Linked DNA regions of Homo sapiens: regions 1, 3 and 4 are each linked to region 2. The links come from fine-mapping of genetic effects on plasma protein levels. A gene starts in region 2. Each other region holds a variant in brackets. All regions are shown on one strand. Distances are between the middles of the regions. Region 1 overlaps SVEP1 (sushi, von Willebrand factor type A, EGF and pentraxin domain containing 1). Region 2 holds the start of SVEP1 (sushi, von Willebrand factor type A, EGF and pentraxin domain containing 1). Region 3 overlaps SVEP1 (sushi, von Willebrand factor type A, EGF and pentraxin domain containing 1). Region 4 overlaps SVEP1 (sushi, von Willebrand factor type A, EGF and pentraxin domain containing 1).

The links. PIP is the posterior inclusion probability: the model's chance that the variant is causal. Sun 2018 read protein levels with aptamers (SomaScan).
Region 1: its variant is fine-mapped to the plasma level of the SVEP1 protein (Sun 2018, PIP 0.95).
Region 3: its variant is fine-mapped to the plasma level of the SVEP1 protein (Sun 2018, PIP 0.95). The variant lies in the coding sequence of SVEP1. If it changes the protein, the assay may bind it differently, which can mimic a change of level.
Region 4: its variant is fine-mapped to the plasma level of the SVEP1 protein (Sun 2018, PIP 0.95).

Annotation. Positions count from the first base shown.
Region 1 is chr9:110,425,140-110,433,340 of GRCh38, reverse strand. SVEP1 (sushi, von Willebrand factor type A, EGF and pentraxin domain containing 1) reads left to right here. Exons shown (of 48, transcript NM_153366.4): 31 at 706-879; 32 at 1,307-1,426; 33 at 2,891-3,067; 34 at 3,337-3,421; 35 at 4,007-4,198; 36 at 5,583-5,750. Among named protein-coding and RNA genes, the nearest start is that of TXNDC8, 91 kb to the right of the region's middle. The variant GT/T (reference allele first, on the strand shown) is at 4,567.
Region 2 is chr9:110,575,723-110,583,923 of GRCh38, reverse strand. It overlaps SVEP1 (sushi, von Willebrand factor type A, EGF and pentraxin domain containing 1), which reads left to right and starts at 4,183. Exons shown (of 48, transcript NM_153366.4): 1 at 4,183-4,911. The coding sequence starts at 4,381. RefSeq lists enhancers at 4,315-4,815, 4,816-5,316.
Region 3 is chr9:110,545,004-110,553,204 of GRCh38, reverse strand. SVEP1 (sushi, von Willebrand factor type A, EGF and pentraxin domain containing 1) reads left to right here. Exons shown (of 48, transcript NM_153366.4): 2 at 3,101-3,356; 3 at 6,914-7,090. Among named protein-coding and RNA genes, the nearest start is that of SVEP1, 31 kb to the left of the region's middle. The variant C/G (reference allele first, on the strand shown) is at 3,254.
Region 4 is chr9:110,503,865-110,512,065 of GRCh38, reverse strand. All of the region lies in intron 5 of SVEP1 (sushi, von Willebrand factor type A, EGF and pentraxin domain containing 1), which reads left to right. Among named protein-coding and RNA genes, the nearest start is that of SVEP1, 72 kb to the left of the region's middle. The variant TTTG/G (reference allele first, on the strand shown) is at 3,303.

The DNA of each region.
Region 1 (8,201 bases), 150 kb after region 2:
AAGCTCCATAAGGCAGGGATTTTGTTTGTTTGGCTCACTGCTGTAACTCCAGCACCTAGAACAGTGTCTATGTGTTAGGCCATTTTGCATTGCTATAAAGAAATACCTGAGACTAGGTAATGTATAAAGAAAGGAGATTTAATTGGCTCACAGTTCTGCCGGCTGTACAGGAAGCATGGTGCTGGCACCTGCTCAGCTTCTGGGGAGGCCTCAAGGAGATTTTACTCATGGCAGAAGGCATCAAGAGTAGGCACATCACATGACAGAAGCAGGAGCAAGAGAGACAGTGGAGGGAGAGGTGCCACACACTTAACCAGATCTCACGAGAACTCACTCACCATTGCAAGGACAGCACCAAGCCATGAGGGATCTGCCCCTATGACCCAAACACCTCCCACAAGACCCCAATTCCAACATTGGGGATCACATTTCAACATGAGATTTGGGCAGGGACAAATATCCAAACTTTATCAGCGTCTAGTGGGTAAATGTTTTTTGAATAAATGAATTGCATGCCTACTGTGAGCCAGGCAATGTGCTAGACGCTGAGGGTTCAGGCTGCTGCTATCCCTAGGACACCCTCAGTCTGATGTTTGCATTCAGTAAAAATGTCATGCTTAACTGAACTGCTAGTTTAATACAAATAAAGTGTTCTTGGAGTATTTTGCTCTTAATGTCGTTGTCTTCTTCCTGGTCACCTTACAGGCATTAGCTGTGGGGTGCCACCTCCTTTGGAGAATGGCTTCCATTCAGCCGATGACTTCTATGCTGGCAGCACAGTAACCTACCAGTGCAACAATGGCTACTATCTATTGGGTGACTCAAGGATGTTCTGTACAGATAATGGGAGCTGGAACGGCGTTTCACCATCCTGCCTTGGTGAGATAAATGTTGGCAACTACTATATGAGATTATTCTAGCTCTGTAGATGACAGTCATCCCAAATTCCTGAGGTTCTTGAGGCATTGCTTTGTTAACTTTATCTCATCCCAGTAAGCTCTGGCCAAGCCATAGTGACAAAGCAGCTGTATGTAGAGGTGCCAGAAATGTTTTAAATTTTTATCAGGCTCCATATTAAGACTATATTTATATATCCCTGTCTTATACTTGCCCACCTATAAACTAGGGAAATAATAGCTTTTATTGTATATCTGCAATGTGATTATGACTGTTATATTTAAATTCTATACAAATATATGAAGTGTTGTGCATTACGTGATATGTAATGATTTAAAAGTAAAAACAGATGTTTGATACATACGGAAAAGGAATCAACTTTAATATTTATAAGCTGTCTTCATTTTAGATGTCGATGAGTGTGCAGTTGGATCAGATTGTAGTGAGCATGCTTCTTGCCTGAACGTAGATGGATCCTACATATGTTCATGTGTCCCACCGTACACAGGAGATGGGAAAAACTGTGCAGGTAACCAATATATGTAGAACTAAAAGTTCCTAATTCCATTCTTTTATTCAAGTACATATTTTAAGTGTATGTTATTTCTAAGTGAGATAATTGTTTCAACTTCAAAGGGCATACAGGTAGGCAGATAAGATAAAGTTCTTACAAAAGACACATCAGTAACAACTAAAAGTGCTTTAAAGTAGCATTGTGCCTCCCCCAACTTCCCAATTTCTCAGAAACAAAACTGACAGCCAACTATGATTCTACAATGTTGAAACGTCTACATAGTACAAGAATAATAGAGTGGATATAGAAATATAATCAGTGACATCCCTGCCTCAATCAGAGCAAGGAAGATGCTTTATCACATCTTCACTATCAATATCTTTCCTCTGCCTCAGTCACATAAAATTATATCATTGAAAAAAAATAGACATCTTGCCTCCCCAAGACATCTTGCACTACAATATTTTGAAATAGCTTTGATAATACCAGATCATCTCTCAACCCGTTGTTGTATTTCTTCATTTGTTGTGAAGAGTAACTCCTGGAAAACAATAAGATGTCTATATGAACACACCATATAAACAGTTCTTTATTTTAGTTATTTCATGTAATATTATATCAGGCACATTTTTGGTGTCACAAAATAGTTTGAGAGCAGGATTTTAATTCCTGTTTTATAATTCACTTTATGGATTTTCCATAAGTAACTTTTCTCTGTATGTTAATATTAGGTGATATTCACTATGGAAAACAGTTTAATAAGCATCTTTGGACATACATCTTTATGCTTACCTCTGGCTGTTTTCCTCAAAATCAGCTCATAATTGCATTTACTTTAAGAATTTGTTTAAACTCCTTGACTTATATAGCTCAAATGGCCTTTGAAAAGATTGATGCAATATATCCTCCCGTTTTGAGAATTCAAGTATTATATTCACTTTTCTTGCTCAACACTGGCCCAAACCTTGCTTTAGCTTTTTCTCCTTCCTATTATAGCAGTGGAGACCGACCCTGAATCTGTAGATAGGGAGAGCCCAGAGCCCATACTCTATTTGGGAAGGGAGGCTGGAAACTTTCCTGAATCTGCTTTATTCAGCCTTTCCATCAGCCTGACACCAAGTCAGTTGCTCTGAAAAACTGGGTATGAAGAGGGAACAGATGAAAGAGGCTAATGCCCTTCTAAGCCACTCTCTAGCACCACCACTACTTTCCCAATGAGCGCCTACCTTTGCAGCCAGAAAAATTATGTATATTGTTGTTAGGAATTGCTGTTTCAAACTATTATTGCTTAAATGCTTATTAAATGTATGTTCTGGTCTAATGTCCAATGTGTCTCTGGGCCCTCATGCATTTCCCTTCACGAGGTTTTCTCTTGCGATTTTAACAGGTTTCTTAACTATAGTGGAATTCTTTTGCTGTGAGACTTTGCATGGTTGTGTGAAAGCCACTTATTATTCCACCAAAACTGTCTGTTTCTAGAACCTATAAAATGTAAGGCTCCAGGAAATCCGGAAAATGGCCACTCCTCAGGTGAGATTTATACAGTAGGTGCCGAAGTCACATTTTCGTGTCAGGAAGGATACCAGTTGATGGGAGTAACCAAAATCACATGTTTGGAGTCTGGAGAATGGAATCATCTAATACCATATTGTAAAGGTATGTTTAGTAAATTTACCACGTTTCTTATGTTTGGCAATCCTAGAAAGGTAAGGCGTAGACATATGAAGTGTTATGTTGTATCAATGTTCTTTGTATTTGAACTGAGGTATTAGGCTCATGTTTAAACATGACCCCACACACACACACCAAAAAAAAAAAAAAAGAAAACAAACAAACAAAAAAAGATCTTGAGCTGCCCCTTGAAATTTCAAAGATTTTTGCACACAGTCTCAAAAAAGTCACGTGTTTGTTTTTCCTTTGTTAAGCTGTTTCATGTGGTAAACCGGCTATTCCAGAAAATGGTTGCATTGAGGAGTTAGCATTTACTTTTGGCAGCAAAGTGACATATAGGTAAGTATCTAAGATTAAAACTATATTGTAGAAGATGTTGATGGCATACTGGTAGTGATATAACACTGAAAGAAAGGGGGTGGGAAAATAATTGCAGAGGACATTTTTGAATTAATATGTAATTAATCGAATGATACATAGTGTGAACAAATCTTAATCCAATAATTTAATGGTAGTTATATCTAGAATCCTTAAATCCCCTGACCAATAATCTATCATTACCTCCAGTGCCCCCTTGAGGCACCCTGAGAGTGGATGCTCCTAGCTAATGAATACTCTTGATGTCTCAGAAACAGACTAGACCACACCACTCTCAAGCCAAGGATTCCCTGTTTGTAGTTACTAATCCATGACACAAACTGAAGGCAAGCCAAATTCTTAAATCTATCCTACTTCCCTATGGGGAAGATATACAGTATTCAATCTTGAAAAAAAAAATTAATTTAAAAGCATTATTTCAGTAGGAAAAAAAATCAACTTTTCCAATATGTATAAATTCTTAATATTTTTAGAGGTTTTTGGCACAGATAACGGCATGCAAAATAAAGCAAATTATATCCTGTAATTTTCCTCTATCTTCTTTAGGTGTAATAAAGGATATACTCTGGCCGGTGATAAAGAATCATCCTGTCTTGCTAACAGTTCTTGGAGTCATTCCCCTCCTGTGTGTGAACCAGTGAAGTGTTCTAGTCCGGAAAATATAAATAATGGAAAATATATTTTGAGTGGGCTTACCTACCTTTCTACTGCATCATATTCATGCGATACAGGATACAGGTAACATTTGTAGACACCAACCAAGCTTTCTACAATACTGTGTTACTCGCTCCCTATTTTATTTTAATTTTTTTGAGACATGGTCTCACTGTGACACTCAGGCTAGAGTGCAGTGGCGCAATCTCAGCTCACTGCAATCTCTGCCTCCCAGGCTCAAGCGATCCTCCCACTTCAGCCTCCTGAGTGCAGGGACTACAGGTGTGCGTCACTATGCCCAGCTAATTTTTGTATTTTGTACAGATGTGGGTTTCGCCATTTTGTCCAGACTAGTCTCGAACTCTTGAGCTCAAGCAATCCACCTGCCTCAACCTCCCAAAGTGCTGGAATTACAGGTGTGAGCCACCGTGCCTGTATTCTTTACTCAATAG[GT/T]TTCATTTGTACGTGACTGGCTGACTCTAAAAACAAATTTATAAATATGAGGATGTTCTCAAATCTGTATGCTTCCCGAGGCCTACCTAGCTAATGGTAAATGCCCAAGAAAATATTCTATCTAACTATGACTCTGAGAGTCCTAGTTCAATTGCTGTAAGCATTCAGACTTTAAACATGAAAGCAAAAATAGTTTATGAAGCATAAACAGAATACCCGATAAATGCTTTTGTGATGGATTTCTTTATAAACAGCTTACCAAACGTACTCAACATTGCATGGAATGTTATGAAAAAGCATGTCAAGATAAGGGGCTAGGTTCTTAACACTGTAGGAGATTAATGGTGTGTGTGTGTGTGTGTGTGTGTGTGTGTTTAAACAGAGGGGACAGTGGAGAAAGTCAGACTGTGATCAGAAACATGATCAACAGGATCTGAAGTGGAACAGATCGAGTGAAGAGAAAGTGGAGTGAATTAAAGCATGCTATCAGAATCAAGTTGAGAAGAAAGGCAGATAAGCCATGGCATAGGGATGTGAGGTTTAAGTCAAAGGAAGACCAGAGGTCAGAGTCAGGGGCAGCATGGTTCAAATGCCCAGGCTCATGGCCTGGACAGTTCCCTTTGACCTTAGTTGCCCTGATTTCCTGGCTACTTAGGTGAGTGTCTTTCTTCCTGCTGGATTCTAACCAGTCTAATGAACCCCTTCTCATCCAAGTAATCTGCTCTTCACAGGTCTGGAGTGCCTTACACCACTGCCCATAAGCAGATTCAATATTTTACTATGCACCAAGTGATTACTGTTGTTATATTGTTTTCACCCATTCATTGTTTCAAATGGTGTATAGCTTGTTTAGATTTCTCTTGCTTTCATATAAAGCAATCTAATATGAAGAAATGCTATTTTTGTGTACTCAAATTCCTCAAATGTCCCTTATTTTCTCCAGAGTTCTTCCTGTTTTATCTCCATAGCAGCAAATCCATAGCCAATGAAAGAGTAACATCATTCTTTCCCGCAGCTTACAGGGCCCTTCCATTATTGAATGCACGGCTTCTGGCATCTGGGACAGAGCGCCACCTGCCTGTCACCTCGTCTTCTGTGGAGAACCACCTGCCATCAAAGATGCTGTCATTACGGGGAATAACTTCACTTTCAGGAACACCGTCACTTACACTTGCAAAGAAGGGTGAGTAGGGCCTGTGAAGGAAAGGATCATTGAGAGCCAAGGAAGTGGATGCTCCTGACTGCAGAGATGGGCTCCATTGGACACGAAATTTAATTTCCTGGCAGCCAAAGACAAAGAGAGCCTTATGCTTTTATTTCCTACCTGCAGAGACGGAGTATATTCTCCTGTGGAAATAATATTTTCCTGGAATTTGAGTAGTATATCAAATTAGACCCTCAATAATGGACATTGGGCAATGCAGTGAAAAAATATCTTCATATTATACTTTTTTTTTTTTTTTTTTTTTTTGAGACAGAGTCTTGCTCTATCACCTTGCCCAGGCTGGAGTGCATTGGTATGAACTTGGCTTACTGCAATCTCCACCTCCCAGGTGCAAGCAATTCTCATGCCTCAGCCTCCCAAGTAGCTGGGACTACAGGCGCCTGCCACCACACCCGGCTACTTTTTGTATTTTTAGTAGAGACAGGGTTTCACCATGTTGCCCAGGCTAGTCTTGAACTCCTGACCTCAGGTGATCCACTTGCCTCAGCCTGAGATTACAGACATGAGCCACTGCACCCAGCCTTATATTGTACTACTAAGATGCAAAAAGTACCTTTAAGTGAGCGTTCGTGTATTTATATTCTGCAAAACCAAAGGCAAGACTTAAGTCATAACATAAAGATGACATATCTACAGGGAGGAAAAAAGATAATAAAGTTCAGGTTTTTACATTTCTAAGGATCTTATTTAATTCAGAGATCACCTCTGGAAACCAGGTAACAAATTACGAAGGGCTTTCAGACTCATTGTCTCATTTGATCTTAGCAAAAGCCCTGTGAGGGACAGTGAAGGGAAAGACTCCCTTTGGGATGATCAGTTTAGGGTCTCAATGCAACCAATAAAGTATGGAGGGGTGGCTAAATCTCAGGTCATCTGAGTTTCATTTCATTGCAATCATTGTTTTTTCTCTATGCATCCTCAATAAATATTTTCATCAATAGGGCTTTCACACTCCAGATTTACTACAGTTGTTCTTCACAAGCTGACACAGCAGAAAAGTTGCCATTTTCTGGATTTGTATCTCAACTCTGTTGTTCACTAACTGTGGGGCCTTAGGGAAATAGTGTGACCGCTCTGCCTTGATGGTCCTCCTGCATAAAATGAGTTCATACTTATGGATATTGTGAGAAATAAAATGATATAATACATGGCCTAACCAGAAAAAAAAAATCAATGAACCCAACAAACTTAGCCATTATTATGATGATTGGTGCAGTTTCTGTATTTTCATGGAAGTTGGATTTTACTTCACAGGAGTAGAAAACCATTCCACTAATACATGACTGCCAGCAGGTGGCAACAATATTTTCTTGCGAAAAGATAATAAGAGTTAAAGACTTGCATAAATAACTGAAGCCCAAATCTTAACATCTTCTTAAGTGAACAAGGAATCTTTAATATTAAAATGTCAATGCAGGAATGGCTTTTGATTGTCCCATCTATCCCCTGTGGACTCACTCACATAAGAAACTACCCCTAATGAACTGATAGGACTATTTAAAATTAGTCATTTAAATGTTTGTGAAATCTTAGCAAATATACATGTTCCAAACAATATCTAGATATTGACTATTGCTGGGGCTTTTTCTGATTTAAAAAGTAATGCATGATCACCATATACAACTAGAAAACACAAAATCTATATTTAAAAGTCATCCATGATTTTATTACCCAAAGACAAATATTGGTAATATTTTACTTCATTTCTTCCTAGAATTTTGTCTTTGCATGTATATTTGAATATTAAAGATGATGCTACATGTACAGATTTATACCTTTTCCTCTTCACAAATCATACACATCCTCACAAATTGTTCACTTAGAAGATATAGTAAGATGAGTTTTATGTCTGCCTAACGTTTATCTAAAAGTGATTTAAAGAATCAATTAAGACAATTATGAAAACGATTAAAAAATCTATTCATTTGAAGAGGATTTTTTATTTAGAGGAATTCTATGTGAATCATCTCATGTACTTCCTTCTACAAAGATGGAGTTTGGCAGAAGAAGTATTATTCCCACTTTATAGCTAAGACATGAAGGTGTTGGGCCACATTCTCTTACAGGCCCATTTGTTCTATGCAAGATCATAGTCTGTGGAAACTTTTTCTGTCATTGAAAAGATTGAATCAGATCTGCCCATCTAAATTATGTAATTGTTAAAGGGTATGAGACCATTTTTATAAAAGTGTGTTATATATATGAAGTATGATGTAAATATGGCTTTATTGTTTTCTGTATCATTATTAGCATATAAAGTGATGACATTTCAATAATATATGGGGAAGCTATCTGAGCTAGCTAATCAAATTAATATGAAGTACACATAGTCCCAAATCACTACCACGTGTAGTCTTTTTCTGAAAGGAAAAAAAAATAACTGTTAGGAGACAGTTTTATTTTTCTGAA
Region 2 (8,201 bases):
TCAGACATAAAAAGGAATAAACTAATGGCATTCGCAGCAACCTGGATGGGATTGGAGACTATTATTCTAAGTGAAGTAACTCAGGAATGGAAAAACCAAACATCGTATGTTCTCACTCATAAGCAGGAGCTAAGCTATGAGGATGTAAAGGCATAAGAATGACACAATGGACTTTGGGGACTCAGGGGGAAAGGGTGCGAAGGGGGTGGGGGATTAAAGACTACAAATTGGGTTCAGTGTATACTGCTCAGATGATGGGTGCACCAAAATCTCACACATCATCACTAAAGAACTTACTCATCTGTTCCCCAAAAAACTGATGGGAATTTTTTTTAAAAAGAAACATATAGAGTGGCAGATGTTCCCAACCTCTGTATGTGAGAGAATGTCTTTGTTAAATTCACGGCAGAAAGATATTCTTATAAATACAGTCATAATGCAGTCACAAGGTGGCATCTTCCTCCTATCTCCACTGCCTGCCGCTGTGATTCACTGACACTGTGTTATAGTTTTGTTTTTAAAACAAAACATGACAACTAGCATGCGTGGAAACAGACATTTTTCCTGCCTCTGCTCCCATGACTGGACTTGATGCTTGGAATCTCAGGAGGATCTTTACCAGCACCACTCTGCTCTCTTCCTCAGTCCCTCTTCCATCTTTCCCCATATGCACGTTGCAACTTATCTGTTCACAGTATCAGCTTCAATGTAGAAAGATGGGTGCTGTGAAGGGAGGGTGTAGTTGGTGTCCTCGACTCAAGCAGAGGTCCCAGCGGGTAGACAGGATTGAGGTTCCATTCCTGATTGAACAAAATGTGGGACTCTGAATCACAGTTTAGGTGGTGAGAATTATATAATGCATGCCTCTTGCCCTAGCCCACCAACACACTTTTTTTTTTTCCAGAAGTCTTTATTTCATGAGATGAAGTCAGGAAGTCAGGGTAGGTTTTTTTTACACTTCAGCTCCATGTTGTCATTTCTATACCTTTAAGTTGCTTTTTCTTTTCCTCTTTTTTCTTTTTTTTTTTTGAGTCAGAGTTTCACTCTGTTGCCCAGGCTGGAGTGCAGTAGTGCGATCTAGGCTCACTGCAACCTCTGCCCCCTCAGTTCAATGGATCATCCTGCCTCAGCCTCCCGACTAGCTGGGACTTCAGGCATGTGTCACCATGCCCAGCTATTTTTTTTTTTTTTTTTTTTTGTATTTTTAGTAGAGACAGGGGTTCACCACGTTGGTCAGGCTGGTGTCGAACTGCTGACCTCAAATGATCCACCCGCCTCGGCCTCCTGAAGTGTTGGGATTACAGGCATGAGCCACTGTGCCCAGCCTTTCTAATCTTAATGTTTAGTCTAACAAGTTTTTGTCATCTTCTGCATCTATTACTGTGGTATAGGCCAGAGTTTCTCAACCTCACCACTATTGTCATTTGGGGCTAGATGATTCTTTGTTGTGGTGGCTGCCAGTGCATTGTAGGAGGTTTTGTTGCACCCCTTACTCCTATACACTAGATGCCAGTAGCACTGCCCCATCCCCCAAATGTCTCCAGACATTGCCTAAGGTTCCTGGGAGTGAGACATGCAAATCTCTCCCGCTGGGAACCACTGCTTTAGATTAGAGAGCAGAAGGGACTACAGGGCTCTGGGGAGCGGTGGCAAGACTTGGAGCAGCAGTCTTAATAACACTCAGGCAGGACTTCTCTGACTGATGTGTCCCCACTCTCTTACCATGAGGACAAGTAACATAGGCCTGACTGTTCATCCCGTTGGAGGTACACAATGCCAGAGTGCTGTTCTTAGGCGTTCACCCTTGGGGCATGTGTTAGAATTATCCAGAGAGCTTTGAATGTGTCTAGGCCTATGGCAGACATCTCAAAATATTATTAACTTGAGTTGGTGGGGTAAAAGTCTTTCTCAGGTTATAAATCCGAAGAAGAGACTAAATGTGGCATCCAAAAAGAAGCCAAACTGAGAGAAAAATTAAAGACCTAAGTAGTTTTTAATTTCCTTTTCCAAGCCTTTTTGAGACCAGCTGTACCCTCTGCCCTTTCCCTAGTTTAGTTATACTAACCAAAAAATCCCTTTTTGTTTAAATGAGGAGACATTAGGTGCCACTTACTTGCAGCAAGAGTTCTAAAGCAATTGAGTACCTCCTTGGTTTGTGTGGGGAACACAGGAGATGGCACACATTGCAGATGCCACGGTGCTTTGCACATAAAGGGCTTCATGATGTGTTTTAAATAACACAGAGTAGATGATATTTGGAAAAACTTTTTTTTTTTTAAAAAAGTCCCAGCTCAAATGAAGTCTTACTCATTCCCCAGGAAGAACGAGATCTTTCTCCTCCTTGCTCTTTCTTCTCTGCTTTTGCAGTCACCCTACTGCTTTGTAATTGTTTGCAAATCTATGTTCTTTTCTAATGTTCTTTGAACTTCTGGAGGACTGGAACTCAGTCTTATTCACCTTTAAATCCTCCGTATCTAACATGCCAGCACATAGCAGGTGGTCAATAAGTATTGTTAGGAAAATAATTTGAAGAACATTCATGATTAAAGGTGGCAATAAGAGCAACCAGCCAGCATTTATTGAGTACACGCTATGCTCCAAGCATTGTCCTAAGAATTTTACTTTTTTATGACTTAATCCTTATGACAGCCCTTAATATGTTATCGTTATTACTCCATTTTACAAATGAACAAACTGAGTCAAGGCTGTACAACTAATAAATGGCAGAGTCATGATTTCGTCCAGGAAAACTGATGCCAGAGCCCTAACATGTTACACAATACATTGTGATACTTGTCACTGAAAGTATTTTGTTAAATACAGACGGAGTTAAATCATTCACTATTAGAAACAGAGGAAACTGAGATCACTGAATTCCATCATGAAATAGATACTGATGCTGAGCCAAGGATTGGAAGTGACTCAGTTCAGGTGGTTTACATAACCGTAGGCTTACCTACACGGTGTTCCTGACTCCCAGCTGGAATCTTTTAACCAAAGGCCCCACCCTCATGCAAAGTGCACCTTTTCTTTACACGTGCGCTCTCCCCTTTGGAGGTCTTGCTTTGGAAAAACCACCCCAGGTAGCAACTTGTTTCAAAGCAGATATATGCCAGGTACCACTTAAAGCCAGGTGGATCTTATCTGTTGAAATAGATCAAGAACACATGAAAGGGGACTGGGGACCCCCTACTTACACTTCAGACTTCAGCACAAACTTTCTGTCCTCAGAGAAGGCTTCTCTGGCCTCTCCAAGGTCAAGTCTGTCTACCTAAGCTCTCCTTTATTTAGCATGGTCACTTGTAATTACATATATTTTGTATGTTAATATCTGGTTAATGGTCACCTCACTTGTTACCCTTTAAGTTCATTGAGGATAGAATCCCTGTCAATTTTTGTTCCTTATATTTGCAGTGCCTCACATAGTTCCTGGCACACAATGGGTATTCAAAAAATATTTGTTAAAATCAGGAAAGAATGAACAAACAGATGAATGAATAAATGCACGACTGAAGTACCATGACAAATCATTCCTGTGGAACGCATAAGGTTAGATGCAACTCCTTTATGGTGTGATCTGAGGGGGCCCTTAAGGGCTTAATCTGCACGCTCACACACACCACTGATTAGAAATCCCCATCAGGAAAATTGTACAATCATCTATTTGGCGAGGGCTTTGGGACACTGAATGGGGGAAAAGAAACACAAAAGGTGAGCAAGCAGTTTTCAAAGGATGCTTTCAACTCCCTGGCCAGTCCGCGTGTATGTTTTCGTCTACAAAGTGTTTCCAATTACTGTGGCACTCTCGGTATCTGGATCCATCTCCAGTGAATTCCTCTGCAGCTCCTGCCAGACATATGGGATCAATCAGGGCTTCGGCGCTGGTGCGCTTGCTGCGGGAATGTTGACAGCCTGACAGACGCGGGGTTCTGGTGTCATGGAATCTCCGAGCCTTTGGCTTGATCCCGGGAGGAGAATGAGAGGGGGAGGAGGGAGATAGAGTCACAGATACAGAAAGTAGACAGGAGCGGGGAGAGGGAGAGAGGGAGAGAAGGAGGGAAGCGGGAGATTTTTCTTGACTGCCCCCTTTCCTTCAAACATTTTATAGGCTTCAGGGAGAGAGAGGAGGAGGAGAGAGGGAAGAAAAAAAGAGGAGAGCGAGAGGGGTAGAGAGCGCGCGCCGTTCCCTCCGGAGTTCCCGAGCTGCTGAGGAGTCTGGATTGTGTCTGTCCCCAGTGTCAGATGAAAGGGCGCTGAGGCTCTTGGCCGCTGCCCCGCGCCCAGCTCCGCGCACGCCCCTCTGCGAGTCCGGCCGCCCAGCGCCTCTTCCCGCCCGAGCCGCCGCCTGCGCTCCGGGGCAGCCGCTCTGTCTCCAGCGCGATGTGGCCTCGCCTGGCCTTTTGTTGCTGGGGTCTGGCGCTCGTTTCGGGCTGGGCGACCTTTCAGCAGATGTCCCCGTCGCGCAATTTCAGCTTCCGCCTCTTCCCCGAGACCGCGCCCGGGGCCCCCGGGAGTATCCCCGCGCCGCCCGCTCCTGGCGACGAAGCGGCGGGGAGCAGAGTGGAGCGGCTGGGCCAGGCGTTCCGGCGACGCGTGCGGCTGCTGCGGGAGCTCAGCGAGCGCCTGGAGCTTGTCTTCCTGGTGGATGATTCGTCCAGCGTGGGCGAAGTCAACTTCCGCAGCGAGCTCATGTTCGTCCGCAAGCTGCTGTCCGACTTCCCCGTGGTGCCCACGGCCACGCGCGTGGCCATCGTGACCTTCTCGTCCAAGAACTACGTGGTGCCGCGCGTCGATTACATCTCCACCCGCCGCGCGCGCCAGCACAAGTGCGCGCTGCTCCTCCAAGAGATCCCTGCCATCTCCTACCGAGGTGGCGGCACCTACACCAAGGGCGCCTTCCAGCAAGCCGCGGTAAGGCGCCCGCCCCTCCCGACCCGGGCCCTAGTCCCCGGGCCCTTCGACCCACCGCTGCCTGCCCGTCTCTATCCCGGGGTTCAGTCCTGGGCAAGGCATAACCACCCCAAGTCAAGCGTCCCCATCCACAAAACCAGAGTCATCGCTACCCGCCTATTATTGTTGTGGAGGTTCCAATGGGATAATGGATTTTAAAACGCTTAGAGGGATGTCAGGCTCCTTAGATAGTCGGCTTCGAGGACCCTGTTAGGAAGGGATCCTTGAAACGCTAATCACATTCACGTTTGTAGGAGCAGACGGTATCCAAGCTGAAACAGGTGAGCATGGTTTACAAAGTGTTTCTAAAGGTAGGACATGGAGTGATATAAACCTAACCCCAATTCTTTTTAAAGTTATGTTATGCTTTCAATGTAAGATTCGTGCCCTTCCTATTTTTGCTCCAATCCTTTATTAGATTTTTAATATCTGGAAGAGGAAGTCAGTTTGGGATGTCGGACTTTTGTAAAGTGTGTCTGTTTTTCTGATTACAAATTAATCCATATTCAGTGGGGGAAAAAGAAACATATAGAAATATCTAACACATAATAGCAAGCCAGTGTTTGTGGACTGAATTAAACAAAAAGTAGGGAGAGGAAAAAAAAACCCTAAAATTTCATCACTTTAAAAAAGCCACTGTTTGCAGGTTGTTGAACAGTTGCCCAGTATGTACATCCATTCATACTTTTAATATCTTGCTGTTTTGTAGCCTACATTTTTCGTTTGTTATATCCTAATTAAAATGTTCTACATTAGCTGCATACTATTCCATTGCGTGCAACAATCACTTATTGTTGGACACTTAGGATTTTTCCTTACTAAGTTATCGTGAACATAAATATTTGTGGACTCCTCTGTTTACATCTTTAGGAAGAATTTCTATAAAAGTTCCTGAACTAAAGGTTATGAACATTTGTAACTTCTTGATACTATTGTCCATTTCTCCCTTGGAGGGTTGTATAAATTTATATTCTCATCAGCAGAGTATCTCAGCAGTAAATTTGCCACATATTCACCAATATCATACTATTCTTTTTAATATCTTTGTCAATTTAAGAGGTGATGGAGGCATCATTTTAGCAAATACACATTTTTGATTTTTGAGGATGAACATTTTCCAGTACATCTACTGGACATTTGTATTTTTTCCTCTGATATTTATAGTTTTTGCCCATTTTGCCATTATAGTGCTTGTTTGTTTTTTCTTAACACATTGGCTTGTTTTTTTTTCTTAATGATTTGCAAAAGTTCTTTATATAGTGAGGCCAGTAATTCTTTTGTGTATATGTTGCAAATGTTTTTCCAGTTCACTGCCTTTTATTTTTGTTTATGGAAATGTTGTTAGATGAATGGTTTACATTTTTATACACTCAAATCTATCAAACATTTTCCTTAAGATCCTATATTTGTTCATAGTTTTAGAATAGCTCTCTCATTTCCCAAATCAGAGAAATAGTTTTCCATGTAGCAGCTTAATCCATCTGGAATTTATTTTTGTGTATGATATGACAAAGAGGTCTAACTTGATTTTAAAAAATAAATAGTTAACCAGTTGTCCCAGCACTACTTGCTTAATAGCCATCTGTCCTTTTCCAATTTAATTGAATGTCATGTTTATCATGTGCTAAATGCTTATGGGTATTTGATCTCTTCCTGGCTTTCTATTTCATCCCATTCTCTATCTCATTTGTATCATTGCCAAAATGTTTTAACTATTGTAACTTTACAACATATTTAAATATCTGGTAGTGCAAATTCTCCTTTTAAAAAATCTATTCTTTTTCTAGTTAATTCTTACCCACTTATTATTTAATATGAATTTTAAATTCATTTTTACATATTACCAATGAAGTCAGTAAGGATTTTGATTTCAATATAGAAAATATTGAATTAACTTGGGGATTATATGTATTTTATAGTAATAATTCTTCCATTTCAAAAGTGTAAGACCTTATATTTTCTCAAAGTCTTAGAATAGCCTTCTCATTTCCCAAATCAGAGAAATAGTTTTCTATTTAGCAGTTTAATCCATCTGGAACTTACTTTTGTGCATAGTGTGACAAAGATGTCTAATTTTATTTTTTAAATGAATAAGCAGTTGTCCCAGCACTATTTGGTTCATATAATTTGCTTAATAGCATTTATGCATATTCTTTATACACATACATTTATACATCTTTAACAAAGTTGTAGATTTTTAGAAGTTAAGTCCTGTATATATTTTTCAAGTTTACATCTAAATATATTCTGTTCAATATTACTGTCATGAATAGCATCTTTTAAAATTAAATTTCAAACAACTTTTCTTGACGTATAGAAACACTGATTTTTAAAAATATGCCTTCTATATTTGGATTCTTGTTGAAGTCTCTTTGATTCTTTTTTTCTCTTTTTATATATATTTTATTTTACTGATAATAAATATTTATTGCAGAAAATAAAATAATCAGGAAAACTATTTCCTGAAAATATACCGTCATAGTTTGGTACATAGCTTCCTTGACTTTATTCAGTTGTCTAGGTAATAGGCATGTTTTCATACATATATTATGCCTAAATTATGTTTACCCAGGAAAAAGGATTCAATTGTACATCCTCTTGTAATTTGACTTTGTATTCCCACCATATATTTCAGTCTTCTTTCCAAAATAAGGAACATATTTCTACTATCATTATTTTTCAGGGTCACAGTTTTCCACTGTAGAATGTGCTTTTGTGTGTGAGTGTGTGTGTGTGTGTGTGTGTGAGACTACCTATTACTATGTATTTAGGCTGTTACAAACATTGTGTAACTAAATCTTTGTCCATATCTCTAATCATTTCCTTAAGGCAAATTCTTGAAGTGCCATTATTGCATCAAAGAATATTCATGTTTTTTTAAGACATTTAATACATGTGTCAAGTTGCTCTGCAGAAAATGGTGCCAACCTGCCCTCCACATGCAGCCCCAGTGTCAGGACCTGGGGTTCAGACCAGCCAGTGCTGGCTAATATCATTTGAAGATTCCATCCCCCACCCCCTAACTTTCTAAGTGAGAAATGGAGTCCCATTTTAAATTGCATTTCCCTATTAGTGAGGCTGAATATTTTAAAAACATGTTATTGTCCATATATAGCTCCTTTTTTTGAATACCCACTAAGATATTTGAGGATTATTATCCAGTTTTTAACTGGGGGTGGCTCTCTTATTGATTTGCAAATGCTCTTTAAATCTTAATGGTATTAACCCTCAGCTGTCAGTGACCCAAGTGT
Region 3 (8,201 bases), 31 kb after region 2:
CTTGGGCAAAGTTACAGCAAAGGAAGAGATACTTACCTCTCAGCTCTGACATGTCCTGTGCTGCCATCCTCTGAGATGCCCAGTTGTCTCATCAATAGTCATGATGGTCTTTGTTGGTCATCCGCATGTCTGTTGGTTAGTTTCATAACCTTTAATGCAGCTATCTCCTGCGGCTTCCAGGATCTCTTCCCATGGATATTGCCCAAGAGAGACACATCTCTTCTTGGCTCACAAGGTCTGTGGTGTCATCTACTGCCATACCTTTATTATTGCAAGACTCCTTCAGGTGTCTTAAAATTGCATTGATTCTTTCTCTGCTATACCTCTCTGGAATACATAAGCTTCTTCAGGTGCCCTCTCCTTTACCACCCAATGGAGTAGTTTTACTCTACTGCAGGGGGCCCCAGTACCCAGGCCGTGGACTGATGCTGATCCATGGCCTGTTAGGAACTGGGCCACACAACAGGAAGTGAGCAGTGGGCAAGTGAGCATTACCACCTGAGCTCTGCCTTCGGTCAGATCAGCGGCAGCATTAGATTCTCATAGGAGCGTGAACACTATTGTGAACTGTATGCGAGGGATCTAAGTTGTGCACTCTGTCCCTGTCTCCCATCACTCCCAGATGGGACCATCTAGTTGCAGGAAAACAAGTTGAGTGCTCCCACTGATTCTACATTATAGTGAGTTGTATAATTATTTTATTCTATATTATAGTGTAAAAATAATAGAAATAAAGTGCACAATAAATATAATGTGCTTGAATCATCCTGAAACTGTCCTCCAGCCCCATTCCACTCCATGGAAAAATTGTCTTCCAGGAAACTGGTCCCAGGTGCCAAAAAGTTTGGGGACTGGCCAGACGTGGTGGCTCATGTGGCAGGGCGTGGTGGCTCACGCCTGTAATCCCAGCACTTTGGGAGGCTGAGGCAGGTGGATCACGAGGTCAGGAGATCAAGACCATCCTGGCCAACATGATGAAACCCTGTTTCTACTACAAATACAAAAATTAGCTGGGCATGGTGGTATGTGCCTGTAGTCCCAGCTACTCGGGAGGCTGAGGCAGGAGAATCGCTTGAACCTGGGAGGCGGAGGTTGCAGTGAGCCGAGATCGCACCACTGCACTCCAGCCTGGGTGACAGAGTGAGACTCTGACTCAAAAAAAAAAAAAAAAAAAAAAAAAGGTTGGGTACCACTGCTCTATTGTCCGCTGTCATTATGACCAAGGGCACTTCTTTGGGATGTACCACCATCCCAGATATCCAGATGGAAAGAGGACCTGGGGACCTCTATGCCTAAAGGGAGGCTTGTCAATCATCTCTTCTGTGACAGAGTTAGGGGTGTGGAGAGAGTGTGGAGAGTTCAGGGTCTCACAGCAACATCTCACATTTCTCATTCTCCCCTAACTCTTTCCCTCTTCCTCTCCTCAGAGGTTTTTTCTTCTCTGGAGTGTGGAAAAATTTCACACTTACCAAGCATTCATTCCAAATCTTCCTGTCATTCATCAAGAGGGCAGCTTTTTAAACTTTAAGAGCCAAGAATTTTGAGAGTGTTGATTGGGCTTCTTGGTGTGTTTATTTGGGGAATGTCTCCAGTAACGTCCCGAATGCTACTCCGTCGCAGAAGCCACCCTCTGTGCCTGTCTTTGGTGTGGTCCCATCTGTACGATTTTCCTTGATCTCATTTGATTTTTGAGAAAGAGTGTGGTGAAATGTTTGAATACCTCTTCTCAAACTGCTGGCTTTCCAGATATTTCTGGAGGCATTGTTAGTTTCATTTAATTTTCCTTAAATTCAGGTTTAGCAGCTTTAGCTTTGCCTCACAAACACTAACTAAATTTAGGTAAGAATTATTGAATTGTAATGAATACCCACTGATTATATACTAATGAAGATTGCTTTCTACGGACATGAATCTCATAGTCTGAGAGAATCTGGATCTCATAGTCTGAGAGAATCTGGATCTTATAGTGAGTCTGCACCCTAAAGTGAATTGTATCAAACATTTTAAAAATCACAATATCTCCTTTTCACTTTAACACAACATAGGATGCAGTTGTCACTCTTCCTGCCTACCTTCTGAAAAACATGTAGTGTTTCTTGAATTCTTGCGGAATAAACATGAAGTTCTTTTTTAAAAATTAATTTATTTTTTAATAGGAATTTCTTCTAAGAACTTACCAGAAAATATACCCTGGTGCTTCTTTATCTTTTCTACTCATCTGTAGTGAAAAGCAACAACAGCAAATTGAATTAAATGCCAGATTCACCACTGGAGTTCTTGTGCCTTTATAGTCTGGTGTTACAAAGCATCAATGGCAATATATAAATGTCTTTTTAAAAGGTTTCATTTTTTAAAATTCTATCTGTAGAGAAGGAAGAGCATATATCATTGTAAAACAGAATTCACTTGTCCTAAAATAATAAAGTCCCAGTGTCAGATTTAGTGAATCAGTATTTCTGGATACCACCAAAACTAGCTATTTTTATGCTAGTACCGGGTGGTCCAAAAAGATGAAGTATTGAATCAATTCTACATTTTTTGGAGGAGCAAGTGGAAAAACAAATATAGGAAGCAGGTCAGCCATTATTGACTCTGGAAAAGACATGTTCTGTTAAATTTCCTTCCCATTAGGATTTTGGTGTATGACCATGCAGTGGTTTGGATAGAGATGATAGACAGATAGATAGATAGATAGATAGATAGATAGATAGATAGATAGATAGATAATTTGTGGAATTTGGATTCAGATTTTGTTCATATTTTGAGAGCCTGAGAATCAATAAAAATAATATAATAATAAGTGATAATATTGATTAAAAATTCATTCCATAAGTGTTTGTTGTACTTCATTAGCAAGCTCCATCAGCAATGTTGATGAGGATGATAGTTTTTAAATGCTTTTGAGGTTTATTGTGGCTCTGTGAGAAGATCATTGTAGGCTCTCATCTGTGCCTATTTCTGTTTTACTCTGACTAGGGCTTCCATCCCTCATGCCTGTGAAATACTAATGATCTTTGCAAGTACTGCCTTACGTAAGAAGAGAAGCACACAGTAGGCAAGACAGTACACACTCATATTAACTTTCCCCATTTCATTACAGCAAATTCTTCTTCATGCTAGAGAAAACTCAACAAAAGTTGTATTTCTCATCACTGATGGATATTCCAATGGGGGAGACCCTAGACCAATTGCAGCGTCACTGCGAGATTCAGGAGTGGAGATCTTCACTTTTGGCATATGGCAAGGGAACATT[C/G]GAGAGCTGAATGACATGGCTTCCACCCCAAAGGAGGAGCACTGTTACCTGCTACACAGTTTTGAAGAATTTGAGGCTTTAGCTCGCCGGGCATTGCATGAAGGTAATGGAAACCTAATGGCATCACAAAGGTACTTTTAAATGAGGCTTCCTTGCCTCTCACTGCTTGAAACCCATGGGAGGGTAATATCAAACTCTCACAAGGTCTTTGCTGAATATGATGCCCATGTGTCCTTTGGGCATCATGAAATGTGCTGAACTTCACAGAGATGACATTCTGACCTTGCAACAAGAGTTCCTTTTGTTTTTTTTCTTAGCAGCTGTTATGTGTTTTCACTAAAATATCCATATGCTCCCACCTTAGAATCAGTGGAATGAATTTAGGTGTGTTTTGAGGCCACACACAGAGTGGGAAGCCTTGACTTAGATCTCTTTACAGTTATCTGGACAGAGGAAGTAAACATTCAGAGACATGCTCAGTGAAACTTACCAGAATGTTTCCAGAAATACACATGAAGATACAGGAACAATAAATACTTAACACATACTTCTTGCCCTGACCATTTGAAGATAGATATGCTTATGTAAAAGCTTAAGAGCATTAACCCTAAAAGGGAAGGAAATCAGCAAATGTATCATTATTAGAGCTTTCTGTGCATCACTTATAATTTAATTATAAATTATAATTTAAAAATTAAATCATAATTATACATTATAATAAGTTAGCTGTGTAATATAAATTAAACTTCCTATCAGAATATAGGTTTATGTCTTAGTGAGCTAGGAGAAGAAAATACAGACTAGGAAGAAATCACAGGAAATCTAGCCTCAGATTAAAGTGATATGGCAAATTAGGCTTGATCCTTGCAGATATCCATGTGAAAGATTCAGTTTGAGGGGAAAACCATGGCAACATGAGTTCTAAGAAATTAGTGATGTTCATAATAAGTGGGTTAGCTCTACTGGAGTTTCTTTTTAAAAAAAATAAATAAATAAAGATGGTGTCTCGCTATGTTGCTCAGGCTGGTCTCAAACTCCTGGGCTCAAGCATTTCTCCCACCTGGGCCTCCCAAAGTGCTAGAATTACAGACATGAGCCACCATGCATAAAGCAAAAAAGATTTATCTCTCTGAGGGATGATGCTGGCCAAAGTTTTTGGAGGCTGGGATTTTAGTGAAGTGAGCAAGGACTTAGGACAGGGCTTAGAAGCAGCAAGAAACTGAGTATGGGAAATAAAGTATGGATTTGCGTTTAAACAGGTTTGGATCTAAGTTCCAGGCCTGCAACTTAATGAAATCTAATTTTTAAGAGCTAAGCCTTAAAAATCCAGAATGTCTGGATTTAAATCCCGATTTTGTTACCTACTAGCTGACGTTTTCTGTTTTTTTGTTTGTTTGTTTTGTTTTTACATATCATTCATCTTTTATATTCCTTAGGTTTCTTGTAAATAGAATAGGAAATGAGAATAGTACCTACTTCATAAAATTGTTACAAGGATTAAATGGGTTAATACATATAAAGGGATGAGAAAGTTCCTGATGGCTTGTTATACTCAGCACTCAATAACTGTCTACTATTACTGATATTTATTATTTATTAACAAATTATCATTATTAATTCCCCTAGGCAATTTATTTAACAACTATGAACCTCAGTTTTCTCTCCTTTAAAAATGGAAACTATTATTATATGTATCACAGAGGTTTTCAGGAGGATTAAATAAGATATTTAAAACATCACCAATATAGTATGTAGCACATGGAAGAAGTTCAGCAACTGGCTACCTTTATTTCTCCTTTTCTCCAAGGAAAGTGATATGTTAAGAGGGAAAACAGGGTGGTTGCAGTTGGAGATACTGGGTGTTGCCAGATGGGATTATGAAATTATGAGTGCTATCAACAAATTTCAGCTCCTGTCATCCCTCTGTCTTCTAGGAGTGGAGACTTCTGTCCTGATGGAAGTTGACCCAGAAACTAGAGTCAACAAGGAAAGGGTTTTGGTTATCATAATGCAATAGGGTTTTAGGAGACACCACATTTATTACACTAAACTAATATCTAAAATGTGTAATACTTTAGTTGAGTTTCTAGGTTTAGTAAGTAAAACCCTGTTTTTACTGGAAAGACATGATCAGATCAAAGGAAATGAGCCTCATTTCCCCTGCCTCTGTGTTCTCTGCAGCTACTTTCAATTTAGATGGATCCACTTTGGGTTTCACTGCTGTTCATGTTTCTGGCCATTCTCGATAGACATAGGTTACAGAATAATAGCTTTCCCCATTTGTACCTCCTCCACTTATCTCTCTTCCAGACCTGAATGCTGGTACACTAGTCTTGACAGCTATGTTTGTCTTTTCTTTTCTTCTCACCCTTTTTGATACAGGGTCTCATTCTGTCACACAGGCTATATAGTGCAGTGGTGTGATCACACCTCGCTGCAGCCTCCACCTCCCAGGCTCAAGTGATCCTCCCACCTCAGTCTTCCAAGTATCTGGGACAACAGGCATGTACCACCATGCCCAGCTAATTTTTTTAAAAATTGTTATTGTTTTTGTAGAGACAGGGTCTCACTGCATTACCCAGGCTGGACAAGTAGGTTTTCCTTGCTCCCTAACTTGCTTTACTGCCAAATAAACCTGTGGTCCAGTGTCTCAGAGCTGAGTCCTAAGGGCCTGTGTTACAGATCTTTTACCCACACCACAGTCTATTGGAAGGAGCTTACCAGGGTACCTGGTTGCACTGGTTTCTTTCCCTTGGGGCTGGAATCTTCCCTTTGCTTTGCCCCTATCTAGATGCATGGAGATGGATGTTCTATATTTGAGTCTACCACCAATCTCCTTCCAAGGTGTCCAATTGCAGCCCGTGTGTCTTGCTGGAACTCACCCACTTGAATTCCTACTATAAGCCCATCACAATATCTGGGCTTAGAGCCCCATGGACCTAGTATTGGAATTTAGTCTAAAACTTTCAAACTTCTTGAAAAGAATAAAGGACTTACTGTTTGTGTGATTCTAGGCCATCCATTCTGGGTCAATCATATTCAACCTTACCCACCCTGTCAAGTCACTTTCTAAACAGGTCTGCCTGAGTTATTGCATTCCCAGCATGCCTCACTTCAGAGCATGGCTCAAGTAATAAGAATGGTCTTTATTTACCTACTCAAATACCATAGAAGTGACAGTGTTTATTCCAAAGTTGGTGGCTCACAATTAACATCTCTGTGCAGTGATCAGGATGGTGGCTTTGTTTCTCATTGGAACAAGGATCTGGGGACTCGTTGCTGGGGCCTGACCTCACCCAGAGGCAGTGGAATGCTGCTGCTTTGGAAGCCAGGGGAATGACCTGCAGAACTGACTGCACTGTTTCCTGCAGCATCTGGAGATTCCTCACTACACTACTTAATTTCTGCCTGACCCTGAATGGCCTTGAGAACTTATGATGAGGTCCCAGACTGGAATAACTTAACTGGCTTCAACGAATTCCCAGAGCGCGCTAGTACAAATAACACACATTCGTATTTGGGTGGGAGCAGGAAGCAGTTGGGAATTAGAGGGATATGGAAAGATATTTTCTCCAGCTTGCACTTAAATTTTAATGACCAGAGAATGTAACATTGAACTGTGACTCATTTTTATCGCCCTCTGTCATATGTTATTTGTAGATCTACCTTCTGGGAGTTTTATTCAAGATGATATGGTCCACTGCTCATATCTTTGTGATGAAGGCAAGGACTGCTGTGACCGAATGGGAAGCTGCAAATGTGGGACACACACAGGCCATTTTGAGTGCATCTGTGAAAAGGGGTATTACGGGAAAGGTCTGCAGTATGAATGCACAGGTGAGTCTCCAATCTGTGTATATCAGTTGTCTGTTGCTGTGTAACAAATGATTCTAAAATGCAATGGCTATAAGGAATACATGCTTGTTATTGCTCATTAGTGTGTGGGGTCAGTGGCACATCTCTTTGGGGCTTCAGCTGTGCTGACTCATTTATTTGCCATCAGCGGTGAGTTGAGTAGGCTGCTGGCTGATCTCAGCTGGATTCTCTTATGTGTTTGGGTGTCTGACAATAGTCTGACCTAAAATGGCTTTGTCTAGGACAACAAGGCTGTCCTTTATGTGGCCTCTCATACTCCATCAGGCTAGCCCAGGCTTGTTCAGGTGGGGACGGCAGGGTTCCAAGAAGAAGAATGGAAGCTTGTAAGGCCCCTTGAAGCCTAGGTTCAGAACTGGGAGGAGAAAGATTTGGGGTCTTTGTAATTAGTCTAATAAAACAGCCAAATCTGTCCTCTAGGCATGTAAACCAAAATGTGCCTCAATCTCTCTATGAGATTGAAGCCAGTGGAATTCTTGTCCCCAGGCCACATGTAACTGGTAAGATTTACACATAAAAAAATGCATCCTTCACTTGATGGCTTTTTAAACTCTTCAGGAGCCTCCACAAAAGTGCATTGAAAAGTTCTAAAACTGCCATCACTTCGAAATGGAATTGGAATGACTACTATCAAAAAGACAAAAAATTACAAATGATGGCAAGGATGGAGAGAAAGAGGCACTCTTAAACACTGTTGGTGGGAATGTGAATTAGCATAGCCATTATGGAAAACAGTATGGAGGTTCCTCAAAAAACTAAAAAGAGAACTACCATATGATCCAGCAATCCCACTACTGGGCAGATATTCAAAGGAAAGGAATTCAGTATGTCAAAGAGATATTTGCATATGCATGTTTCTTGTACCACCATTCATAATAGCCAAGATATGGAATCAACCTCAGGGTCTATTCAATGGAAGAACAGATAAAGAAAATGTGGTCTATATACACAATGGAAGACTACTCAGCCATAAAAAAAGAATGAAATCCTATCATTCGTGGCAACGTGGGTGAGCCTGGAGTTGTTAAGTGAAACAAGTCAGGCACAGAAAGACAAACACCACATGTTCTCACTC
Region 4 (8,201 bases), 72 kb after region 2:
TGGAACCTCCTTATACTAAAAAATTATTTGTTGATTTTCTGAAATTTAAATTTAACTGGGCGTGCTGGTTCATTGGTTTGTTTGTTGCTAAATCTGGCAACTTTACTCCCACCACATCCACTAGTCATTTTTTGGCAGAACACTTTGCTGAGGATTTGACTACTCCAAAACCCCACAAATCAGCTGGACCACTGGTTAAAGATTAGTTCTGTCTTCTGGTCTTTTCTTGGCATCCATATCCATAAGGGAGAACCACCTACTCATGACTCCAAGATCATTTGTGAATCCCAGGAGACATCTATGTTGGTACCAATTTATTAGGTACCAATACTGAACTCATCTATAAATGTAAATTGGCCTACATGGTATCCCCAAAAGACAAGGAAAACTGAAAACGATCAGCAGATTGAACAAAAGAGACCTGACAGAAAAGAAAGAAAAATGGAATCACTGAGATTCAAAGGCAACTACATTGCTAAAATAAGGCCAGGATTCCAAGCAATGAAAGAAATTTGAGAGGAAAAATATGTATTAGAAGTAAAAAAAAAAAAAAAAAAAAAAAAAAAAAAAAAAAAAAGGTACTGACACAATGAATGGACCTAGTTAGAAGTCAAATTAATAAATTAGAAAACTAACTCAAGAAATTCATTTGAAGGTCAATCAAAAAAATCCAAAAATAAAAATATGAAAGAATAAAGTAACATGAGAATAGTCACAGGAAATAGACTCTTTTCACGTGAGGAATCCAGAGAGAGAACAGAATGGAGGAGATGCACCAGTAGAAGATCTAAAGATATATCCCTGAGCTGAAATTTTGAAAATACTCACAACCCAAATCTTGGATATTCAGTTTAAAATCACTTAGTAAGTGCCACAAAAAAAATATTAAAAACAGATTTATGTCGGGAAATAATCTTAGTGAATTTTCTGAATGCCCTAGAAAAACAGAAAACTGTGTCCATTTCATAGTTAGAAACAACACTACCTACCAAGGAGAAAGAATCAGATTAGCCTTAGGCCCCTTTGTTGGCCATTCTCAATGTTAGAAAATAAGACTGTGTTGCCAGGATTCTGAGGGAAAAGAATAGACCCTAGATTTCTAAACTCAGGCAAGCTACTGTTCATGTGTGAAGGCAAAGGAAAGACATTTTCAGTCATGCAGCCTCAAGTGGTAAAAAGCCACATACCATTACTGAAAAAATGAATCCTTGAAAGCTTGTAAAATATATTTTCGTGAAGTCAATAGTTCTAAGTTCTGTGTAAAATCTTTACCCCTTCTTCCAAATACCTTACGGTAGAGGATGGGAAATATTACATTTTAACTTGCCACTCAGTAGCCTTCCAAAGAGGAGTGAGAAAATCAGAGAAGACTGCCCTTTCAGGATAAGGTCTGGCCCCTGCCTCTCAAGCCTGCACCCTCCATAATCAAGCCTCGCGTCTGATCCTAAAGCTGTAAGAAATAGCCATGCTCTCTCAGGAAGCCGGCCCTTTGAAGCTGTTCCCACAGCCTGGCTCTGCCTTTGCTCTGGGTCCTCTCAACCCTCCACTGTTGCCAACTTCCTCCTCCTGAATGGGGTGACCTCTACACGTGCATCTGTGCATCTGCAGACCTGCCCCCACCCCTCATTATGTTTCTTATGCTATGTGTCAGGGTCAGTCAAGGAAGCACAGTCACCATGCATGTTATGGGATGAAGGATTTATTTCAGGGAATAGAGCTTACACAATTTTAGAAGGAGCTTGGAAACAGAAGAGGAGTGGGAGGATCAGAGGAGTTCTTGACAAGTCAACTTGAGAGGCTACCCAGCTTTTGAAGTGGAATTGCTAAGGAGAAACTCATGGAAGGTCTAAGAGAAGCTTTACCTCTGTGTAGTTATGCCCCTGTGGCTCTGCAGCCAAGAACCTTGCAATGAACATGGGGCCACCACTGGTCATGGGATCAGCAGTGAGGACGTGGAATGGAGGCAAGCAAGGGCAAGCTGGAACCCCCTGGGCATCACTGCATTTTTCTATCACTGACTCTGATGACAATGACCACTTCCTCACTTCTGCCTTCCAAAATCAAGTGCAAGTTCCTCTTTTGATCAACCCTAACTTGGAACCACAATAAAGGGATTCTGGCAAACATATTTCCCAATGTAACTAACTTGTCACAATACAAAGCATCACACTTTTATTGGTAATTAACTTGTCTACCTCCTCTGCTAAACCAAATTCATTATGAGCACAGAATTTATTTCTGCCCCTCAATCATTGATGATATCTCTGGTGAATGAATGGAAACTTGAAGTTAACAAATACACATATCGATAAATGTATACGTTGATGTACATTGATAACTACAGTATATACATTGATGACCTGCTTCTGTCACTTCATATTAAAAACCATGCATGGGTGTGATGGCACAAGCTTGTAATCCCAGCTACTTAGGAGACTGAGGCAGCAGGGTCACTTGAACACAGGAGTTGGAGGCTGCAGTGAGCCATCATCACACAACTGTACTCCAGCGTGGGTGATAGATTGAGACCTTGACTACAAAAAAGCATGCTTGTTCTCTTTTATGTAATTTCAATTGCAATTCCAATATAAATAAAATAATTTAAAGCAGAGTAAGGAGAGATGCTACAATTCAACTTCACCACCAAAGCTACAGCTAACTTACCAGTATACAAAGTTGTACTGAATGAAGGTACTTACCCAGGCCCTTACACTTTCACTAATGCTCAGTGTATTTAGTTACATCAGATATTGTTCTATGAAACGCATACCATATTTCACTAAATCTGAAACACATGCCATATTTCACTAAATCTGAAACACATTTTTTAAAACATTTTAACATCTCTAAAATGGAGATGCATCTTAAAATCAGTTGCAGCAAACCCTTTAATTGGCATTATTGTTTCTTTGTTAGTGGCACATAAAATAATGTTGTGTCTTACAATGGGGATTCAATGAAATATGGCCGTTGGGTAGGATTTCATGTCTGTTTCATGGTGGGTAGTATGGAGAAAGTAGTATATTTTTACAGATTTAATTATAAGAACAGTGAATAATTTTAGTTATATTATACTTTCTCAAAAATATGTGTAAGATTGAGGCAGAAATGAAAGACCTGCATAAAATCTAAAGCCTTTTACAAATATCATGTTACATTGTTAATGTTTTTGTGGATGTTGACTAATAATTGGTAAACTTGATTCTCACTTCTCCTATGCACTTTTCATAAAGCACTTATACTCATTTTCAGTTTTATCTGAATTCTGCATTTCTTTCTTTCTTTTTTTTTTTTTTTTTTTT[TTTG/G]AGATGGAGTCTCGCTCTGTTACCTAGGCTGGAGTGCAGTGGCACGATCTCGGCTCACTGCAAGCTCCGTCTCCTGGGTTCACGCCATTCTCCTGCCTCAGCCTCCCGAGTAGCTGGGACTACAGGCACCCGCCACCATGCCCGGCTAATTTTTTGTATTTTTAGTAGAGACGGGGTTTCACCATGTTCGCCAGGATGGTCTCAATCTCCTGACCTCATGATCCACCCGCCTCAGCCTCCCAAAGTGCCGGGATTACAGGCGTGAGCCACCGCACCCGGCCAGAATTCTGCATTTCTTTCTAAACAGGAAAGGATTCTTTTGTGGTTTCTCAATCTTAACTAACTAAACCTGAGTAAAAAGGTTCAACCAATGAGAACCTTACATTTAACATCAGATTTATTTTATTTTCAGTAATAGATATCACAATTTGGAGACTAATAGGAAGCACGTGCCTGGAAAAAAAAAAATCTGATTAGTCTTTAAGATGGGAACCAGAGTAGCTTCTTATATTGTCTACTACAAGTAGACTTTTCTCTTAAAAGTCTAAGTTGCTATTTTCTAAAAAGACCAAATAAATATTTAGGAATTGTGATAACATAAATGTAAGTCAAGAAATATTAATTGCAGGATTTTTCGGCATGTTGAAATGAAAAAAATATAAGTTGAAAATTCTTTAAGAAGTGTGTACCTATTAAAATGGTATTAAGTGTTCATTCTTGAGTGAAATGTTTAAGGAATAAATAGGAATTATTGCATATGTTTTGTTTTCAGTGGGGAGCAATGGAAGTTTATTAATACCAACATCTGAGAAGCAGTATAATTTGCATCTATATGAGGCACCGACTCTAATTTATTATCAGTAATAAATCCATTTTGTCTCAGGTTAGGAAAGCTGGAGTCATCTTGGCAGTTTGTTGAAGCCAAAACATTGTTTAATATGGTTTTCCAAATTTTATACATCAGAATTTATCTGATTCACCTTTTAATCCCACCTCATACTTTGCCTTGGGATACACATGAAGGACACACTCAATAAAAGTCAAAATGCAGAAGACAAGATGTTTCATGCACTTGATAGACACAATAAAGATTCTATTTGCATAAATGGGCACATTCAGGAAAAATTAAAACACGGAAGGCAAAATGTTTCGGATCATTTTTTATTAATACTTGACTTTGGTCCAAGCCATTCCAGGGATAAAAGAGGCTAGGGTTTATGATCTAATCTCTAATCTAACTCTTGCATTTTCTCTAAGGAGTAATGGATCCTAAACTTTTATTTAATGCACACAATACTTATGCTCTGCTGATTAATATAATTTGAATGGGTTCATTGTAGAATAAATTCAAACAGTGACTTCAATTGAATATGCACTTGAACATTTTGCCCCCAGCTTCCTTTCCTGGTATTTTAAGGTTGTCTTTGACGTAACTAAATGTATGCATGGTATGAACAATTGGCAAATGCAGAAAAGTAGAAGAAGAAAAAATATATCCCACCCGGAGTCTCAACAAAATTCTTGAGTCCCAAATGTTTTGTTCAAAAATCTTTAGAGATTGTTATAAGAGCTCTCTGAGAGGAAACTGAACTTTATTCTTTTGTAGGGGTTATTTCTGTCTTTTGTACGATGTCCAATGCTTGTAGGTTCTATCTATAATCTATCAAGATGAATATACGTCCCCATCATTTGGCATATTTAACAGGCACCGACTCTTTTTTCCTCTCCAATCTCTGTTCGTGAATGGAATGTGCATGCCTTCTGACTGAGAGTGCATTTTCCATGGGTCTTGACAGCTTCCCCATCTTCCTCTTTCTTTTCCCTATTTATTCTTTCCCCTACCCCTACTCCTTTCCTGCTCTGACTTCCCCTTCCCCTCACCCTGCTCTTCCTCTTCTCCTCTCCTCTCCTCTTCATCTCCTCCACCTATGTTTCCCCTCCCTTTCTCTTTCCTTTCTTCTCCCCTCCCTTCTTCACGACTTTTCCTTTCTCCTTTACGCTCCTCCCTCCTTCCCCTGCTTGGAAACCCTGATTGGAGAGAGTCTAAGTTAGAACTAGAGGACAAGAAGTGTAGGACAAGATTATAAACTCTTTCAAGAGGGTTTTCTCTAAAGAGGAGACTACGGAAGATGATAGATCAGAGGCTCCTGGAGGGTGTGGGAACTGATGGATTGAAGCACTTGAAGGAGTGATCCCAGAAGGTAAGAGGTGATTGTCAGAGACTAGGAAACTTGGATTGGTGACAGCGAGGTCTAGAGGGCATGGCAATGGTAGAAGCTGAGATAAGGTGAAGGATATGATCATTAGAAAAGAAGAGATCATTCTGTAGGTTGCCTGTTTACTCTGATGAAAGTTTCTTTTGCTGTGCAGAAGCTCTTTAGTTTAATTAGGTCCCATTTGTCAATTTTGGCTTTTGTTGCCATTGCTTTTGGTGTTTTAGTCATGAGGTCTTTGCCCATGCCTATGTCCTGAGTGGTACTGCCTAGGTTTTCTTCTAGGGTTCACGATAGCAAAGACTTGGAACCAACCCAAATGCCCATTAATGATAGACTGGATACAGAAATTGTGGCACATATGCACCATGAAATACTATGCAGCCATAGAAAAGGATGAGTTCATGTCCTTTGCAGGGACATGGATGAAGCTGGAAACCATCATTCTCAGCAAACTAACACAAGAACAGAAAACCAAACACTGCATGTTCTCACTCATAAGAGGGAGTTAAACAATGAGAATATATGGACACAGGGAGGGGAACATCACACACTGGAGCCTGTCAGAGGGTTGGGGACTAGGGGAGGGATAACATTAGGAGAAATACTTAATGTAGATGACAGGTTGATGGGTACAGCAAACCACCATAACATGTGTATACCTATGTAACACACCTGCATGTTCTGCACCTGTACCCCAGAACTTAAAAGTATAATAAAAAAAAAAAGAGAGAAAAGAAAATAAGAGATCAGGAATATAACTCCAGGATACTGGAATGATCATTTACATAGATAAGGAAGTCACTAAGGTGTGGGTATATGTGTGTGTGAGAGAAAGAGAGAGAGAAAAAAGAGAAAGGAGAGAGAGAGAGAATTTAAAAAAGGTTATTGGATATATAATATGATACTTCAAAGGAGCTGGAAGTTTTTAGGAAGGAAGGAGAGAGAATGATCTGGGAAGACAATCAGGAGCAACAGAGACACCTCCTCACCTCCAGTCCCTGTTACAGAAGACAATATAATTTTTATTAGGGCAATCAAGTGAAGGAAAAGTTGCTCAAAAGGAAGTTTAGGATATGAGGGGATTAACTGAAACCATCGTTATTCTAGGGGGCAGGTCCAAGGGTCTATGGGGATAGATTTGGAACACAGCTACATGTGGATAACCCTGGTGGATGAGGGATAACTATAGAGCCTTGGACTTTCTAAGTGATTGCCATCAACAGGAATAGAGGGCATGATGAAATCAATGGAAATGGACTCTAACATACATTGTTGGGTTTGAGTGGGCAGTTGGAGACTCTTACCAGGAAAACTCAGAACACAGACATCGTTGGGGAACCTGCAGAGGCTGGAACAGTGTGAGTGCTCTCTGGTAGCTTCTCTGATGTAATGTTGAGGACAGAGACTCAAAGGTGGCAGAACCGCGGAAATGCAGGTTTCTCTGGATAACTCGTGGCACTTTTTCTGATGGTGATGTTGAGGCTGGCTGAGGTACGGGGGCGTTTTCAGCATCCGCAGTTTAGTGAATATCCTTCCTACTGCTTTCTCATGGTGAATTCAAAGAAGATGAAGAAAACCATGTCACAAGTTGTGCCTGCTCACTTCTCTGGCCGGGGAAATGTGCTCCTAGATAACATGCTCTACCCCGAGCACGTTTGGAGCACACACACATCCCATGATCCAAGAAAGGGGGAAGATCTTTCCCTAAAAAATTAACAAAGGAAGAGTTAATGGATGCTGGGCAGATGGAATTAGAAATTGTGTATAGCTGGTATCAAGGACCCAAATGCTGGGCAGAAGGAATTAGAAATTGTGTATAGCTGGTATCAAGGACCCAAATGCTGGGCAGAAGGAATTAGAAATTGTGTATAGCTGGTATCAGGGACCCAAATAACAATGTGTTAAGCCAATTAAGGCTTCATTTTTCTTTTAACTAAAACAAGGACAGAAGTAGGTAATCCAAAGTTGGTGTAATAGCTCCACTGTCATCAGAGAGCCAGACTTCCTATGTTTTTTGCTATACCATCATGGTGCATGATATGTTCCCACAGTATCATATACTTATACTCTAGTATGCTGGGCTACCATTCCTCATGTCTGTATTGTGGAAGAAAAGGAGAAGGAAGCAGGGAAGGGAAAGAAGTACTCTCTCAATTGAGACAGCCCCCTTTAAAAAGCTTTCCAAGGGCGGGTGCGGTGGCTCACGCCTGTAATCCCAGCACTTTGGGAGGCCGAGGCTGGCGGATCACAAGGTCAGGAGATCAAGACCATCCTGGCTAACACAATTAAACCCCATCTCTAATAAAAAAATTCAAAAAAAAAAATAGCCGGGCGTGGTAGAGGGCGCCTGTAGTCCCAGCTACTCGGGAGGCTGAGGCAGGAGAATGGCGTGAACCCAGGAGGTGGAGCTTGCAGTAAGCTGAGATCACGCCACTGCACTTCAGCCTGGGCAGCAGAGTGAGACTCCATCTCAAAAACAAAAAACAAAACAAAATAAAATAAAATAAAATAAAATAAAATAAAAAAATAAAAAGCTTTCCAGAAGTCCTGCTCAATCTCAGCTATATATTATGGGCTCTCATTAGTTGAGGTAGAGGTGGAGAGTTGTAATCTTTTAGCTGGGCATATTACTATGCTTAATAAAACTGGTGAGAATGGCTATTGGGTGGGCAACTATAAG